Homo sapiens: one gene and its partners. The protein of the gene in region 1 purifies or fractionates together with the protein of each later gene. This does not show direct contact. Each region holds a gene or a part of one and is shown on either strand. Other genes may lie near its edges.

Region 1 (2,566 bases):
TGCCTGGCACCCCCGGGGACTCAGGAGTCAATATCGATAGCGTGTCAGCCTCTGCCTGCTGGCCTTATCTCCCATCCCTCCAGGGAGGGTGTTCCAGGGCCTTGGCTATGTGGTGGGAACCAGTGTTCCAGCAGCAGCCCAAGGCTGGTAGACCAGACTGTGGAGTCAGAGGTCAGCTCTGCATGGGGGCAACTTTGCAAGCCTTCCAGGCAGTGAGGTGGGTGGCTTGGGAAGGGGAGTTCCAGGTTTTATGAATATTCAACAGCTGAGAAATTCCCATCAGGGAGCTGAATTGGTGGAAGGAATCCACCATGGCAAGGAAGCAGGCACTTTCCACACACCATTCCCATGTAACCCGTGATAGAGCTCTCCAAGGTGTCATTGTTGTCCCCACTTTACAGATGAGGAAACTGAGGCATGGGGATGTTAAGTAATTGGCCCATGGTCACACAGCTAATAAGAGGCAGAGCCACAATTCAAATCAGGTTGTCCAATTCCAAGCCTGGGCCAGCGCCACACTAGAAACACCTCTGCAGGAGGGAGGAATGGTCCAGGGGCCAAAACCGTATGACTTGGCTCCTTCCTGTTTGGGGTGGGATTCGGGGAAGGCAGGTATTGACAGTGTAATGGTCACTCCACAGAGGACAGGCAAGGCCACCTCTGAGTGATAGTCAGAGGGCTGGCCCAGTGGCCCGGCCAGTGTTCAGAGCCACACTCTTGTCATGTTTAATGCCTCGGTGGCACAGGGGGCTCAGCACCAGACTTCCCCTGTGGCTCATGTTTCTGAATAAAGGCCCGTGGAGGGCTGAGGCCTCTACCCGGTAGGTTGTGGGATGTTCCCGAGCCTGGCACAGGCTCCCCGCTCTGGCCACTGGCCCAGCTTTGAAACAGGAGGAACGGAAGTCTCAGTGGTGGGAGGCAGGGGAGGGCAGGCACCACCACCCCAGAGTGCCATGCCTTCTGGGGCTATGGCCCAAGGGGAGCTCAGCCTCTGCGGCTCAGAGGGTCTCCCAGCATTCAGACTAGATTGATGTCCTGGGGAGAGACCAGGGGGCACCTGCCAAGGGCAGTGGGGAGGAAGGAGACAAGCACAAGAAGGATCTGTAGGGGCAACCTTGGCTGGGATCTGGTGTCTCCACAAGATTGAGGCACAGCGGGCGGGGCTCTTCCTGTGCCCAGGAAGCCAGGCTGGAGTTACCTTTAGGGGAGCCTAGAGTCCTCTCCTTGGGGTAACTCCAGCCTGGCTTTCTGGGCTGTTGTGTTTTCTCTGGGGGCTTTCCTTTTTCATATTTCTGAAAAGCTCTTTTTGACAAACTCCACCCTTCTGTCAGCTCAAATGAGGGATTTGTCCACACGTAGGTCAGGATCTGTTCCATTCAGGAAACCTGTTATAAGCTCCCATCGTGTGCAGTGTCTCCGGAGGGTCCCCCAATTTGGATGTGGGTCTTGCATTCTAGAATATGGCCCTGTGCTCCAGGATGTGGCTGGAGGCTCAGGAGGAGGGTGCTGGGACTGCCCCCCCCCTTCCCCCGCCAGGCCCTCTGGGTGGCCCGCCAGCCACTGCCTGTGTTTCTGCCTCCTTTCACTCCTTTTGTTACTGCAGCCACAAGTTTTATTTCCAATCTCACTCATCTCTTTCCAAGGAGGTTCCCTAGAGCACCGCAGCCTGACACTCACCATTTCTAGCCCATGGAGCTTCCCCAGGCTGAATGTCCCTGTCTCCACGGCCATAGACAGGCAGGGCTTTGCCCTACCCTCTTTCCATCCTCCTCTGCCTCTCTGCACAAATCAGTTCAAATCAACACAAGAGACTGTGGCAGGCACTGTACTGGGCACTGCACCCCCAGAGTTGATGCAATTCCAGGAGCTCTCAGGTCTATGGGAACGTTAAACCAAGTCACTCTAAGGGAAGCAGGTGGAAAACGCCGTGGGGAGGCCCTGCAGAAGGAAATGGAGGAAATCTGGGATGGCTTTTTGAAGGAGAGGGCACTGACATAGGGTTTGACAGAGGAAGATGCAGAGGATGATTCCCCAGAATAAATGAAGAGTGGGTGGGAAACACTGGGTGTGACTGAAACACTGAGGGCGGAGTAGTGTGGCCGGCAAGACAATTTGAGGTCACACTGCCAGGTGACAGCCTAAAGGCCCAGGATGTGGCCTTACTTCAGTTAGCCATGGGGAGCCATAGCGAGCAGAACTGACTGATTCCAAAGGCGGCAGCAGCTCTACTGTGCTTGGCCAGTTCAGGACTGTGGCAAAGACAGACTTCTCCCTTCCGCAGAGCCTTCCCACTCACCGCGCTCCGGCCCCCGGCCCTGCCTGCTTCTTCCACGGCCCAGATGTTGACAGCTGTCCCTGTTCTGCCCCAAATGCCCTTTTCTAGTTTGGGAAACCAGAGAGGAAAGGGTGCTGGTAGAGGGATGGCCTGGGGTCTGGGCTCTGGGTCGGCCTCACGCCCACTCCCACACCTGCCCCGTGCAGTTTATTCTAGTTTTCACTGTGATCCAGTACCAGCCGATCACCTACAACCACTACCAGTACCCAGGCTGGGCCGTGGCCATTGGCT
Region 2 (3,826 bases), on another chromosome or scaffold:
CAAGACAAAGCTGTCTTCTTTAGGACTATCATTATGAAAGTTTTTATATCTGTTGCTTGTCAATTTGTGTTACTTCTCTTTTATGTTTGGGTATTTTCCCCTTAACTTTATTTGAACCTATTTTGTGATGATGGGGATTCTGACCATTTATACCTCATATAAGGAGAAGAGCATCTTTCTCGTGGCCCACAGGAAAGATCCTACAGGAATGGATCCTGATGATATTTGGCAGCTGTCCTCCAGTCTTAAAAGGTATGACTATCCTCACAGATTTTTAAATCCTGGTGTTGGATTTGCCCTGGCATGTTGTCATTATCAACAGAAGACTTATTATGTGCCTACTCTATGTGGATCATAGGGCTAGTCATATAAAATGAAGAAAGGAGTATGGATGATCTAGAAGGTTTGTCCTAGCCCTATAGTTCTGAGATTGCGTTATCACAGAAATGCTCTGAGGATAAACTGTGGGAGAAGGTACTTTTTCCTGTGGCCAGTTAACAGAGACGATTAAGCATACAAAAGTATAAAGGCCAAAGATGTGAGATCAGTTATCTTTGAAGAATTCCATTAGCTTCTGTGTCTTCTATGATCCTGTCTTCTCTCCACGAATACAATCAAGAATATCTGGAGCAGTGCACTGGGCAACTCAAAAAAAGCACAATCTAGAGTCTGTTTCTGACCAGTGTCAGGTATAACTTTGTGCAGCTGACACACATGTGTTTTGTAGGTACCAAGAACTAGGTTCATGTTCCAATTCAGTTTCTTTCTAGCTGTATAACTTTGGGTAAATCATATAAATTATCTGAGGTTTAGTGGGGTCAAAAATGATGCCTAGAGTTTCTGGGAAGATGAAATACCAATTATAATAATAGCAAATGTTTATTGAACATTTACTGTATGTTGGGTATTCTGCTAAATGCATTATCTCATTAAGTTTTAGAACACTCATTTTATAGATAAGAATACAGGCCCAAAGTTTAAATCAACTCTTCCAGTATCATATAGCCCAAAAGTGGTAGAGCAGGAATTCCAGCCCAAGTTTGAAACCAGAATTCATACTCGTAGTCACTATCTTAAAAACCTATTATACTTAACTGGTGCATAATAGCCGCACAAATTATAGGTACAATTATTTATATATGAAGTTAAGTGTAGCATCTGTGCCATACAGACTGTCTCATTGCCAACTTGTAGAAGCGCCTATGAGAAAGGGAAGCAGACCTTCATTCTGTTGTTGCAGCTGAGTTCTTGCTTATCTCCTGACAGGGCTTCTAGCTGCCCTTTGGCCTCAGCCATCATAATCTGCATCCTCTACCAGGCCACTGAAGCTGAGTTGCAGAATTCTAAAACCTAGCGGCATTATAATTTCATTATTTTTATTCTGACTTTTGTATTTTTTAAGAACTTTTATATAATTCACCTACCATACATACAGTTCACCCATTTAAAGTGTACAGTTCAAAAGTACCTAGTAGTATTTACAGATATTTGCAACCATTATCACAGTCAATTTTAGAGCATTTTCATCACCTCAAAAAAAAAACCTCTGTACTCTAGCTAATCACTTCCCTATCCTCCCACTTGCCTGAGCCCTGGGCAACCACCAGTCTACTTTCTCTGTTCTCTTTTATGGACATTTCATATGAATGGAATCATACAATATGTGGTCTTTTATAACTGGGTTCTTTCACTTAGTGCAATTACTTCCTATGTATACTGCACACAAGGTTCGTTCATGTTGTAGCATGTATCAGTACTTCATTCCTTTCTATGGTCAAGTAACATTCCATTTTGTTTATCCATTTGTTGACAGACATTTGGGTTGTTTCTACTTTTTGGCTATTATGAATAATGTTGCTATACATATTTGTGTACATGTTTTTAGGTAGACATGTTTTCATTTCTCTTGGGTAATACACCTGGGAGAAGACTTGTATGGTATGCTAACTCTCTTTGTTTGATGAACTGCCAGACTGTTGTCCAAAGTGGCTGCCCTATTTTACAATCTCACTAGCAGTGTACAAGGGTTCTGATTTTTTTCACGTTTCCTGCTGATTTTTACCAACTGCCGTATTGTTGGTGGAGTGGAATGTGAATGTTCTTGCTCTCTTCCCGGCTTTCTGCTGATGTCTTCTCCCTCCCCCACCTCACCGACTGATTTAGTAGCTTAACAGTGGCTGATTCTGATGTCTTATTCCCACTGCCAGGTCATGTGATGTGAAAATGGCAATGAAAGGTTTCACAGACTACTAGTTGCCACGTGCAGACAACACAAGCTATGTGACTCTCTCGCAAAAAGTGATTTTGTCACTCCCCAGCAAATTCATTATACAGTCTAAACTCCTTCAGCATATGAAGTATTACAGCATTCATCCCCTAGTGACATCTCCAGCTTTCTTTTATGCCCCTCTCAAAATACATTCTCTTACTCTGGCAATATTATGGAATTTGCAATATGCTAAGTTATCCAAGTTTCCAGTGACCCCGTACCTTTAAACATATTCTTCTCTCTGGCTTAGCTATCTTTCTGTAACCTGGCTCACTCCTACTTCCAAGAAGCCTTCCCTGACATACCTTAGTCTTCCTTAACATGCCTTAGTCTAAATTAGGTGGTCCTAGTTATTCTTTTTTTTTTTGAGATGGAGTTTCACTCTTGTCACCCAGGCTGGAGCGCAATGACGCGATCTTGGCTCACTGCAACCTCCTCATCCGGCTTCAAGTGATTCTCCTGCCTCAGCCTCCTGAGTAGCTGGGATTACGGACCCACGACCACACCCGGCTAATTTTTGTATTTTTTGTAGAGATGGGGTTTCACCATGTTGGCCAGGCTGGACTTGAACTCGTGACCTCAAGTGATCGCCTAGCCTTGGCCTCCCAAAGTGGTGGGATTACAGGTGTGAGCCACCACGCCCAGCCCATCCTAGTTATTCTTAAAAGCATTTATGCTTACCTCTGTTAGTTACCACATGGAGCTATAATTATTTAATATCTGTGTCTCCTCCTGGGCCCGCCCCCTCCTCCAAAGTGTGAGCTCCTTTACCATTCACTATACAGTAGAAACCTAAGCCCAGGTGGGACTTTCTCACTCACCCCTTGGTAACCAGACCCAGCCCAGGGCCTGGCGTGGCATGTTTTGTTATGTGAATGATTGACATTCATCTGGGCTGGGCTGCAGCCTTGACCTCCTAATTAGTCTTTGCCTGCAGCCCAGTCATTGTCAGCCATCCACAAAGTCCCCTATAACCTAGCCATCTCTATGAACATTCCCTTCTCTTTTTTTTTTTTTTAAACAACAAATTGGATCCACTGAAACTTTTATTTAACTTTGTAATATGAACATTTACCATATAAGGTTATAAGACAATATAAAATCTATCTCATTTCATTTATAGCATAGCTATAAATCAATCTAATCTCTCTTATTAATGTTTTATATATATATATATATTTTTTTTTTTCCTGCATACTTAGGCAATATTTTCCCCAAGGGATATATCATTCTCAGTAAACTACCGCAAGAACAAAAAACCAAACATCGCATATTCTCACTCATAGGTGGGAATTGAACAATGAGATCACATGGACACAGGAAGGGGAACATCCCTTCTCTTTCTTACCCTAAGTGAAACCTGACCATAACCTCTGAGGACATATTTCCACTGCAGACTGCAAGTGGTGGCTGATGTTTCTCTCACAGCCTTCATTACTCCGGTACTACAGGTAGAGATGGGTCTCTCCTTTGCAGCTTCCAATGCGTCCTCTTCCCTAAAATCCCCCCTTTGAATGCATGTCATCACATTGTGCCACTTCTATGCCTCTTCTTTGC
Region 3 (3,826 bases), on another chromosome or scaffold:
TGATTTGTATATAGTTTTCTATTATAAGTTAATTGAAATAAATTCACTAATTTATACCTTTGTATTGTGGAAAGTAACATAGCTTTGATGTCAAACAAGCCTTGGATTCCAATACTGGCTCTTTTACTTGTAAGGTGAATGACCTTGGGCAGGTTAACTTTTCTAAGCCTCAGTTTCCTAACTTAAAAATTACTTACTATGTACCTTACAGGGTTATGGGGAGGATAGAAGGAGACAAGTAGGTAAAATACAGTATGTGCTTGCACTGTATGGACTCCCTCTTCCCCACCTCAAGGGTACAATTTCTCTATTATCTGTCTTTGTTCTTCTGACCTGCTTCTTTTCTACAACTGATTGTGACAAGAGTAATGGTGATGGGGAATTGTTGAAGCAATTCTCTGCCTCAGCCTCCCGAGTAGCTGGGATTACAGGCATGTGCCACAACGCCCGGCTGATTTTTTTTGTATTTTTAGTAGAGATGGGGTTTCATCATATTGGCCAGGCTGGTCTCGAACTCCTGACCTCAGGTGATAAGCCCACCTTGGCCTCCCAAAGTGCTGAGATTACAGGCGTGAACCACTGTGCCTGGCCTTAAAAAGACTTTTAGGCAAGATGGTGTTATTTATTACTGACATTTTATTTAATTGGGAATATTTCTGATAATTGTGTTTGTGTGTGAATATCTATCTGAAAAAGAAAGCCTTTTCTGTTTTAGGTTAATACAAAAGCTGAACCAGCAAACAATATTACAAGTTTCCTGTGGCAACTGGCATTGCTTGGCTCTTGCGGCTGGTAAAGTAACATTAAACATATGCTAATGCTATGTTAATTTTGAAAACATTTCTCTTTGTCTTTTTGTGTGATATTATCTAACTGAAAACTTTGAATTAACTGGTTAGGGTCTATGCATTGCTGTTGGACAGTGACAATTCTCATATGGGCTTTGCATAGCTCATCCTTTTCTCAGGGTGTGGGTGATGAAGTAGGTGGTCATCATTGCTGCTCCAACTTTCACAGGGGAAGATAAGCAGGGGGCAGGACCATACCTAGGTGTTCTGAGCATGGAGGAGATTGATTTTTCTTAGCGACAGCCAACTCTCAAGCTACATTCCACTATCAAGCTCCCAAATGAATGAAAAAGAAGGAGTTGGAGAAACCTAAATAAATCTGCACTTCTGTGTCCTGCTTGATTATCTGCAGAGCAGACCAAGTGGTCATTGCTGGACCTCCCGAAGTCTTGGGTCTCATAGTCTTAGTGTGGTCAGAACTAGTGTGATCTTGCTTAAGCCTGGTAATTGGCCTGTCCGAAATTGAATTTACTTATACATTTAATATTTTCTGTGTATAAATTTTAATAGCCTTTGAAGGGCAGTAAGACTCAGCTTACCTCTCTGTTATATCACTTGGGAGTTTTGGTTTTGGCAGTCTGATAGCATGAAGTATCTCTGTTCCTTTGCTCTTGGGTGGGTTTGGTGTTGGGGGGCAACTGGCAAATGACCCTAATAACTAGATTATTTTTGTGTGTGGAGCTTGTATCATTTTATGGTAATACCAGTTATCCTGTTATTTCAGATGGCCAGTTCTTCACCTGGGGAAAGAACAGCCATGGGCAGCTTGGCTTAGGGAAGGAGTTCCCCTCCCAAGCCAGCCCACAGAGGGTGAGGTCCCTGGAGGGGATCCCACTGGCTCAGGTGGCTGCCGGAGGGGCTCACAGCTTTGCCCTGTCTCTCTCAGGAGCTGTTTTTGGCTGGGGGATGAATAATGCCGGGCAGCTAGGGCTCAGTGATGAAAAAGGTAGGTAAACCCTTCATATGTATGTATTTAGTTTAAAAGCACATTCATTTAACACATGCTTCTTGAGGATCTACTATGTGCTAGCCCCATGTGAGATACTAAGGGAGAAGCAGTGAACACAATAGAGAACATCCTCGTCTTAGTGGAGACTGTATTCTAGTGAGTAGAGGTGCAACAAAACCAGTAAATACACAGGATTTGAGAGTGCAGCTTCCTGCTTTACATAAGGTGGTGGGGAAGGGCCCCTCTGATAAGAAAATGTTTGAGCAGAACCTGTAGGAAATCAGGTGGGAGATGGGACATGTAAATGTCTGGGTGAAAAATGTTCCTGTCAGAGAGAACTGGGTGTGCAAAGGTGCTCATGTGGGAAGAGATGTAGTTGGAGAGAAGGGGAAGAGTAGCACAGCTGCAGGTCAGAGAAGTCGTGTAGACCCAGTTATGCAGGGCCCTGAGGGGCAGGGTGAGGATATAACTGGTTTTCTCAGTGAGAGGGGAAGACCCTGAGGGTTTGGAGGAGAAGCGTGATCCACTTTGGCTTTGGCTGTAGTGGGTCAAGGGGGAAGCTGGAAGACCAGCTTGGAGGTTGTGGGAGTAAAGTCAGATTTTAAACATATTTTGAAGATGAGGCCAGTTGGTTTTGTTCACTGTTGGATGTGTGGTTTGAAATAAAGGAACAGCTGGAAGGGCAAAATGACTGTTTCTGAAATGGGGAAAACCGTGTGTAGTAAAGTGAGCTGGAGAGTGGGCAGGGTTGGAGAGTGTAGGGAAACCATGAGGTAGGTTTTAGGTAAATTAAAACTGAGAAGTCTGTTGGATATCCAAGTACAGATGCAGGCAGGAAACTGAACATGCGTCAGGAATCCAGGAATCCAAAATTCATGCCAAGATAGTTGTGTATATTTCATCTCAAAGGCAAATGGTAGTGATATTCTGATATTTAATTTATTCTAGATCGAGAATCTCCATGCCATGTAAAACTCTTACGCACGCAAAAAGTTGTCTATATTAGTTGTGGAGAAGAACACACAGCAGTTCTCACAAAGGTAAGGAGCTCAGAGTATTTTACTTTGGTGCTGGGGATATGATGGGTGATTAGAATTGCTTGATTATGTTAGTGTAGTGATGGTGTGTGATTACAGTATTGTGGCTTGAACTTGAATGCTCTCTTTTATGTGGGTTTGTTGTTTTCCAAAGGAATAGAAAAAGACTACTTTTTTGTATGTCTCTGTTATCCTCTTTGGTAATCTTGTAGATTTTTCATATATATATATATATATATATATATATATATATATATACACACACACACATAATGTAGATTATATATATATACACACATATAATGTAGATTATATAAAAATGTAGATTATATATATAAATATAATGTATATATTTATATATATATAAATTCCTTGGTTCTTTATGGAACAAAGACAGCACTTTGTTATTTTTATTTGTTATTTTATGTATATATAATATATATAAAATGATGTCCTATGTTCCTTTAAAACAAGTCATTTAAATATGTAAAAAAGAAACAGCAATTTAATTAATGTTTTAAAATAATCATGTTTCTTTTGCTTCTAAATACATTCTAGAGAGAATGAAAATGTATTTTTATATTGAACAAATATTATTCTACGTTCACTTTGATAAAATGCCTTAACATTTATTTAAATACAGCTGTTAAAAAAACAGCTTACTTACCAAGGAATTTGTAGAGCACCTAATTTCTTACATGTGAATGATCATGTAAAATCATCTCATTTAGCCTAGCTCCTAGTTTCTCCTTTTTTAAAATTTTGCTTCCTAACACATCATTGTACTTTCAAACGATTTTAAAAATTTACAGAAGGCACACATTCCTTTGAGCATTGCTATCTTTGTTCCATAAAGATGCAGTCTGAAATTCCCTTTTTATTATTTTTCTATTTAATGAACATCCTTACAAAGTGATTTTGGCCAAGTGTCAAGTGAATGTAGTGCTCTTGTGCACATTGTTGTGATAGGCATTTTGTATACAGGGTTTAGA
Region 4 (3,826 bases), on another chromosome or scaffold:
ATCTTTTAGATTTATAGAAGAGTCAGAAATGTACAAGAGAGTTTTTTTGTTGTTGTTTTTGTTTTTTGAGACAGAGTCTGTCTCTGTCGCCAAGGCTGGAGTGCAGTGGCGCAATCCTGGCTCACTGTAGCCTCTGCCTCCTGGGTTCAAGTGCTTCTCCTGCCTCAGCCTCCCGAGTAGCTGGGACTACAGGTGCACGCCACCACGCCTGTAGTCCCAGCTGTATTGTAAAAATACAAAATTTTAGTATTTTTAGTAGAGACAGGGTTTCACCATGTTGGCCAGGATGGTCTCGATCTCCTGACCTCGTGATCTGCCTGCCTCGGCCTCCCAAAGTGCCGGGATTACAGGTGTGAGCCACCGCGCCCTGCCAAGAAGAGTTCTTTTGCATACCCTTTACTCAGGTCCTCTCATGTTAACGTTTTACATAACTGTAGAACATTTATCTAAAGTAAGATATTAGCCCAGAACAATACTACTAACTGAAGTATAAAACTTATTTGAATTTCAACAGTTTTTTTTTCATTTCTTATTTTCCTTTTGTGTGCTCTGTTTATACCATGATCCATGATTTTTTTAAAATCATGATTGTCTTTTAAAGATCTGTGTGTCTCTGTTTTGAGTTTTTCCTGTTTATTTTGAAAAGTACTGTTGGTCAAGATAATTGGTCAATAATCCATGTTGGTTTTAACAAAAAGCATTTTAACATTAAAAATATTACAGTATAAAATAACACTCTGTGCTTTAAATTGAGGTTTTATGTCATTTTAGCAGAATTATAATATTTCTGATATACTCATGTTTGACAAGTTGAAACAGATTTGTTTCTTAAAGGAAGGTTTAATATACAAAAAAAGGTAATCTTAAACTTACGAAAAAGTAAATTTTACAATTTGAGCATTACTAGATGTTTAGTTTGCATGAACTCATAGTTAGAAATTCTGCAATAGGAATATCTACAACCGGCTGATTTGGAATTTGAAATTATAGTGTTACATGTATACCTATCAAATTAAAATTAAGGAAATACAATAGCAATATATAGAATGAATGTAGTAACAGAAATTAACTCTTTACTGCATCATTGAACTTATTGTTAGTTACAGGTTTAAAAGAAGTTCATTTAACATCCAGTGTGTCTAATTCTTCTGGAAGTGGTGTAGTACCATTGTTCTTCTGGCATTTTTAAATATTAAACCTTTTTGGATAGATGGAAGCCTTATACAAAATCTACTTTATTTTAGCAAGGATTCTCTGTCCTTTTGTATAGTTGGTACCTTACTAATTTAAACTCTAATATCAATCTAAAGAGAAATTTATTATGCAATTTGTATTTAGGTTTTTTTTTTTTTTTTTGGAATGAAGTTCAGAGGTAGATCCTCCTGGAAGAAAGAAAGCAAGCGAACTTTTTAAAGAAAATTAGACTTGAATATTTAAGAATGTCCCTTACAGAGAAAAGGCCAACTATAATACTAAGCTAAAAGTTATGAAAAATTAATAGGTTCTTTTATAGAGCTAAGAATGATGAAACCATCAATACTTCCTTCTTCCTAAAAATCCAGATCAAAACTTCAGGTTAGGTTTCTAAGTTTAGGACATGAATATTATTTTTTTCTGGAAAAGAAGATGAGTATATGTGTAATAAGACAAGTAGAACTGAGAGATTTAGTTTTTTTTTTTTTTAAGTTTTAGTTCAGAATAACATTAATTTTGAGAGATTGAGGTAAAGAACCTTAACTAATGCTAAGGAGTTTATTTTGATTAACATAGGTTATTCTGACCACCACCTCTTCCTTCCTTAATCTCCTTAGAATCTGACAGTCTCAAAGCTGTCACACAAATTAGACTAATTTTGACACTTTGAAATGAAAACTTCAAGGAAGAAGTAGCCACGGACAGTTATGTTTATAATCAGTAGGTGGCACTCTTTCCTCAGGTAGCCCCCCATTTTCACATGATGTGTTTGAAGGTTAAATGCCACCAAAAGTGCTGAGTCAGCTATAAAACTAAGTCCCTGAATTCCATGGCCCTTTTAAATATGTAATCATTCAAGATTGAAAAAAAAAATTAAGCATTTTTTGTTTGTTTGCTTGTTTGTTTTTGAGACGGAGTTTCACTCTTGTTGGCCAGGCTGGAGTGCAATGGCGCCATCTCAGCTCACTGCAACCTCTGCCTCCCGGATTCAAGCAATTCTCCTTCAGCCCTCCAAGTAGCTGGGGTTACAGGTGCCCGCCACCATGCCCAGCTAGTTTTTGTATTTTTAGTAGAGATGAGGTTTCACCATGTTGGCCAGGCTGGTCTTGAACTCCTGACCTCGTGATCCCCCCACCTCGGCCTTCCAAAGTGCTGGATTACAGGCGTGAGCCACTGTGCCTGGCTTGCATTTTTAAAATACTGAATTATTCAAAAGAAGTACCCTGTCAATATGTGCTTTCTAGGAAAACAGTAAAATAGGCCACAATTTGGAGTGACACCATTCAGATCAAGGTCTATCCAGTTTTTTCTTTTCATGCTAAGTGCCTACATCACCGAAACACACTAATATAAAATTATCCTTTCTCCTTCATTTTCAGATGTGTAAAAAATGGTACTTAAAGTGTTTTCATGATCATTTTGTAGGTAGACTAGATATAGCCCGTTGAACCTCTTTTAAAATTTAGACTTTTGATAGTAATATAAAAGCATATTGAAATTTGTAGATATTATATGAGGAATGGCACCTAGATTTGAAAATTATGCTTGGCTTGTAGAGACAACTAGTTTCTCTCGCTCTTTTTTTTTTTTTTTTTTTTTTTTTTGAGACAGATTCTCACTCAGTTGCCCAGGCTGGAGTGCAGTGGTGCAGTCTTGGCTCACTGCAACCTCTGCCTCCTGGGTTAAAGCGATTCTCATGCCTCAGCCTCCCTAGTAGCTGAGACTACAGGCGTGCACCACCACGCCCAGCTAATTTTTGTATTTTTAGTAGAGACAGGATTTCACCATGTTCACCATGTTGGTCAGGCTGGTCTTGAACTCCTGGCCTCAAGTGATCTGCCCGCCTCGACCTCCCAGAGTGCTGGGATTATAGGTGTGAGCCACTAAGCCTGGCTGAGACAACTAGTTTCCCTTAACTCATTGGAATTCTCTAGGATTAGGAGAATTCCACAGAGCCTATATGATATTATAGCTCAACATTTAGTATACCAAAGGCATACCCGTGTAAATCTAGGAGTTATTTCCAGAGATTGTTTTAAGGAGCAGTCTTATATTCAGGGTAGAAAGTTATGATTGGATCTGCTGTTAAGGAGAACAAAGGAGCTTCTAAAGGTTTGGGAGGTTTACTGGTAGTAACTATTCTAGGAAATATTTATGTTTTAAGGTGATGTTCACATGGGTTCTTTAGAAGGAACATAGTCAAGTGTGATGGATTAACTCTATATAGTCTTTCTCCTCTTGTGCGTGTAGGAAATCTGACCTGCAGTGTCAGTTGATGTGACAAGAGATAAAGAAAGCACAGTATTTTAAAATCTAAAGCAGATTCCTTTCTTAGAAAACAATAGGAAAAAATTATAGATGGATGTCTTTGCTGAAATCTAACAATTAGCTCATATTCCATGAGAAAGAGTGGCCTAAGAATTATTTCATGTTACCTAGCCTTCTGAAGCTACTCACTTGATGTGCCTAGCACTTTGAAACTAACCTTTTCTTTCTTTGTTCATGACAGTTTAATTCCAAATATTTACTATTTTCTCTTGTAACTGTTAGAACAGTTCCTTTTGACATTAATTTTTGCCTACATATATATTTTTAAGTTGAGACCAAATCGGTGAAGTGTTGAGCAAGTAAC
Region 5 (3,826 bases), on another chromosome or scaffold:
AAAAACACTTGGAAGCTCTGTGATTTCAATGAAGATTGTGCTTTTAATCTGTGTTATTTGTATAGTCTGCAGATGTGGATCCTGACTCTGCAAGAAGTAGCTCACCGTAACAAAGCTGCCTTTGCTTTTATCACTTTGCAAAACAAATAAAGGGGACACGTTGGGAACAGGCCCCCCAATGTGGCCATAAACTGTCCCCAAAACTGGCCATAAACAAAATCTCTGCAGCACTCTGACATGCTCTTGATGGCCATGATGCCCACGCTGGAAGGTTGTCGGTTTACTGGAATGAGGGCAAGGGACACCTGGCCCACCCAGGGTGGAAAACCGTTTAAGGCATTCTTAAACCACAAACAATAGCATGAGCGATCTGTGCCTTAAGGACATTTTCCTGCTGCAGATAACTAGCCAGAGCCCATCCTTTTGTTTCCCGTAAGGAATACTTTTAGTAAATCTTATCACTGGCTTGCTGTCAATAAATATGTGGGTAAATCTCTGTTCAAGGCTCTCAGCTCTGAAGGCTGTAAGACCCCTGATTTCCCACTTCACATGCTGTATTTCTGTGTGTGTGTCTTTAATTCCTCCAGCACCGCTGGGTTAGGGTCTCCACAACCGAGCTGGTCTCAGCAGTAAATATTGAAAAGGAATAGATACAATTGTCATTATTTACAGATAGAATTTCCAAACAATTCCCAGGGAATAAACTGAAAAACTAACAGAAACAAAACAAGAATGTAGTAAGGTGTCTGGATAAGAGATTTGTATCTAAAAATCAGTAGCTTTACAATGTGCCAGCAGTAGTCTGCTCAGACATCAGTAAATATCTCATTCACATTTCAAAAAAAATTGAAAATGCCCTGAAATAATGTAACCAGAAATACGAAAAAAAGGATATGAAAACATGTGGCTGCTAATGGACATGAAAGAATGTAATACTAGATTCTGAGATGCAATGTTTTTCATTTGTTCTTCCTGAAAAACCATTAGGTTGATGTGCATTACAGTGTTACGATTATGTATGAGTCTAAGGAAAATCAGATGAAATGTCCAAATTAAACCATGAAGGTGCATTGGTAGAGGAAGAGAAAATTAGGGTCAGTGGAGCAAAGCACAGTTAGAGGGAGAAGCAAGGAGGAGGAGGGATCACTGAGGTGGTGCCTGTCCCACAGGAAGCAAAAGCTGACGCCTAGTTCCCAGCATACCTACAGTAAACTTCAGGTCCACTGCATAGCACGTCTCTCATCACAGTAAAACTATGAAGGAACTCAGTGTACAAGGAGCTTCTACAAGATAGGCAGAAGACAGTAGCCAGATGGGCCAAGGGCCCCAGCCACCCACGCCCCTCCCTCTCCTTGAAGACGTGCAGCTCCAACACCACCATCACCAGGGCTCTGCTCAGCTCCTCCTAGTGTGTATCACCACAGGGCTGCTGGCTTGTGTCACGTTCACCACCAGACCCCGCGTCAGGAGTCCCGCCAGGGGTGTGGAGAGGCAGCGCTGCCTGGTTGGCCGTGGAGCTGTATGGAACATGGTGCCTCACAGGCAGTCTGCTTGGAGTCCTGGACCCTGGCTGTATCCTGCTGGAAAGGATGTGTGTGGGTCTAAGATGTGTATGTAATAGAAACATTTATTTATTCAGAAGCTTTAGTCAAAACTTCATTTTTAAGTTTGGAGTAATAAACTCATAGTCTGAATTTCCTAATTTTTCTGTTTAATTTATGTAACTTTTAAGTGAAATGCAAAACAACAGGTCTAAAAGTTAAGCAGTTCTTGGTATGGCTGCTTCTATGGATTAAAAGTTTACAAATAATATTTTGTGCCACAGTCAATGCAAAATCATGCTGCCGTGTTCCGTGTGGGAAGCGTGTTGCAAGAAGGTTGTGGGAAAATCAGCAAGCTCTATGGAGACCTAAAGCACCTGAAGACGTTCGACCGGGGTGAGCAGACAGTGGGCTCTGTGCACACTGTTGGGCCCTTCCTTCTGCAGGGTGGGCTGGTGTCTGTCCCGTCAGTGCTGACTTAGTTCCGTGCTTGCTGTCTGGATGGGTCCTGGCCCACAGCTATAAAGCCACAACCAGTGACTCCATGGACTAGCAGGCCCAGGCTGACAGCTCGGAGGGCCCATGTGACTGGGTCCCGCCTGCCCCTGATGGAACTTTTTGTGTCCCCAGGAATGGTCTGGAACACGGACCTGGTGGAGACCCTGGAGCTGCAGAACCTGATGCTGTGTGCGCTGCAGACCATCTACGGAGCAGAGGCACGGAAGGAGTCACGGGGCGCGCATGCCAGGGAAGACTACAAGGTGGGCCTTCTCACCACGCCCACCTGCACCTGCCTTTTCCTGCCACCTGGTGGGACTCAGCCCCACCCCTGCATTTTCTCTGCATTTTCTTTCGTTGCCCCAAAAGTAAATCCAAAAAATGCCTTTTTCCCCCCTGGTAACTTTGATCCCTGGGTTCTCGCCATCTTCTGGATCACTGTGACCTTTTCCTTGCTTTGGGTCGGCATCCACTGATGCCAGCAGTGGCATCTCCAAGCCAATGTGCTTTGCTGTTAGAAGGCCAAGGTTAGAAGTGCAGCTAGAGTGGCAAGACCAGGAAATAAATGCCAGTTTATTAAATAACGAGTAAGCCATCATTTCAAGCCTGCCCTGTGGAGGAAATGCCAGTTTATTAAATAACGAGTAAGCCACCGTTTCAAACCTGCCCTGTGGAGGAAATGCCAGTTTATTAAATAACGAGTAAGCCACCGTTTCAAACCTGCCCTGTGGAGGAAATGCCAGTTTATTAAATAACGAGTAAGCCACCGTTTCAAGCCTGCCCTGTGGAGGAAATGCCAGTTTATTAAATAACGAGTAAGCCACCGTTTCAGACCTGCCCTGTGGTGGAAATGCCAGTTTATTAAATAACGAGTAAGCCACTGTTTCAAACCTGCCCTGTGGAGGAAATGCCAGTTTATTAACGAGTAAGTCACTGTTTCAAACCTGTCCTGTGGAGGAAATGCCAGTTTATTAACGAATAAGCCACCGTTTCAAACCTGCCCTGTGAAGGAAATGCCAGTTTATTAAATAAGGAGTAAGCCACCGTTTCAAGCCTGCCCTGTGGAGGAAATGCCCGTTTATTAAATAACGAGTAAGCCACCGTTTCAAGCCTGCCCTGTGGAGGAAATGCCCGTTTATTAAATAAGGAGTAAGCCACCATTTCAAGCCTGCCCTGTGGAGGAAATGCCAGTTTATTAAATAACGAGTAAGCCACCGTTTCAAGCCTGCCCTGTGGAGGAAATGCCAGTTTATTAAATAACGAGTAAGCCACCATTTCAAACCTGCCCTGTGGAGGAAATGCCAGTTTATTAACGAGTAAGTCACCGTTTCAAACCTGCCCTGTGGAGGAAATGCCAGTTTAGTAACGAGTAAGTCACCGTTTTAAGCCTGTCCTGTGGAGGAAATGCCAGTTTATTAACGAGTAAGCCACCGTTTCAAACCTGCCCTGTGGAGGAAGTGCCAGTTTATTAAATAATGAGTAAGTCACCGTTTCAAGCCTGCCCTGTGGAGGAAATGCCAGTTTATTAAATAACGAGTAAGTCACCGTTTCATACCTGCCCTGTGGAGGAAATGCCAGTTTATTAACGAGTAAGCCACCGTTTCAGACCTGCCCTGTGGAGGAAAATGCCAGTTTATTAACAAGTAAGTCACTGTTTCAGACCTGCCCTGTGGATGAAATGCCAGTTTATTAATGAGTAAGTCACCATTTCAGACCTGCGCTGTGGAGGAAATGCCAGTTTATTAAATAAGGAGTAAGCCACCATTTCAGACCTGTCCTGTGGTTTG

Evidence for each region.
Region 2: the proteins of SLC6A9 (region 1) and SPCS2 purify together in Homo sapiens (affinity purification with mass spectrometry; one large-scale study listed by BioGRID and IntAct). This does not show direct contact.
Region 3: the proteins of SLC6A9 (region 1) and HERC3 purify together in Homo sapiens (affinity purification with mass spectrometry; one large-scale study listed by BioGRID and IntAct). This does not show direct contact.
Region 4: the proteins of SLC6A9 (region 1) and TMEM33 purify together in Homo sapiens (affinity purification with mass spectrometry; one large-scale study listed by BioGRID and IntAct). This does not show direct contact.
Region 5: the proteins of SLC6A9 (region 1) and SDHA purify together in Homo sapiens (affinity purification with mass spectrometry; one large-scale study listed by BioGRID and IntAct). This does not show direct contact.

The regions. Positions count from the first base shown.
Region 1 is NC_000001.11:43,997,941-44,000,506, reverse strand, and holds part of SLC6A9 (sodium- and chloride-dependent glycine transporter 1), read left to right. Parts: intron 1-2,281; coding exon of another isoform or gene 2,282-2,383; exon of another isoform or gene 2,384-2,481; coding exon 2,482-2,566. UniProt on the Homo sapiens protein: Sodium- and chloride-dependent glycine transporter. Essential for regulating glycine concentrations at inhibitory glycinergic synapses.
Region 2 is NC_000011.10:74,969,448-74,973,273, forward strand, and holds part of SPCS2 (signal peptidase complex subunit 2), read left to right. Parts: intron 1-117; coding exon 118-252; intron 253-3,826. UniProt on the Homo sapiens protein: Component of the signal peptidase complex (SPC) which catalyzes the cleavage of N-terminal signal sequences from nascent proteins as they are translocated into the lumen of the endoplasmic reticulum.
Region 3 is NC_000004.12:88,651,297-88,655,122, forward strand, and holds part of HERC3 (probable E3 ubiquitin-protein ligase HERC3), read left to right. Parts: intron 1-715; coding exon 716-792; intron 793-1,572; coding exon 1,573-1,794; intron 1,795-2,745; coding exon 2,746-2,837; intron 2,838-3,826. UniProt on the Homo sapiens protein: E3 ubiquitin-protein ligase which accepts ubiquitin from an E2 ubiquitin-conjugating enzyme in the form of a thioester and then directly transfers the ubiquitin to targeted substrates.
Region 4 is NC_000004.12:41,955,929-41,959,754, forward strand, and holds part of TMEM33 (transmembrane protein 33), read left to right. Parts: 3' UTR 1-3,826. UniProt on the Homo sapiens protein: Acts as a regulator of the tubular endoplasmic reticulum (ER) network by modulating intracellular calcium homeostasis. Mechanistically, stimulates PKD2 calcium-dependent activity. Suppresses the RTN3/4-induced formation of the ER tubules.
Region 5 is NC_000005.10:249,167-252,992, forward strand, and holds part of SDHA (succinate dehydrogenase [ubiquinone] flavoprotein subunit, mitochondrial), read left to right. Parts: intron 1-1,825; coding exon 1,826-1,937; intron 1,938-2,171; coding exon 2,172-2,302; intron 2,303-3,826. UniProt on the Homo sapiens protein: Flavoprotein (FP) subunit of succinate dehydrogenase (SDH) that is involved in complex II of the mitochondrial electron transport chain and is responsible for transferring electrons from succinate to ubiquinone (coenzyme Q).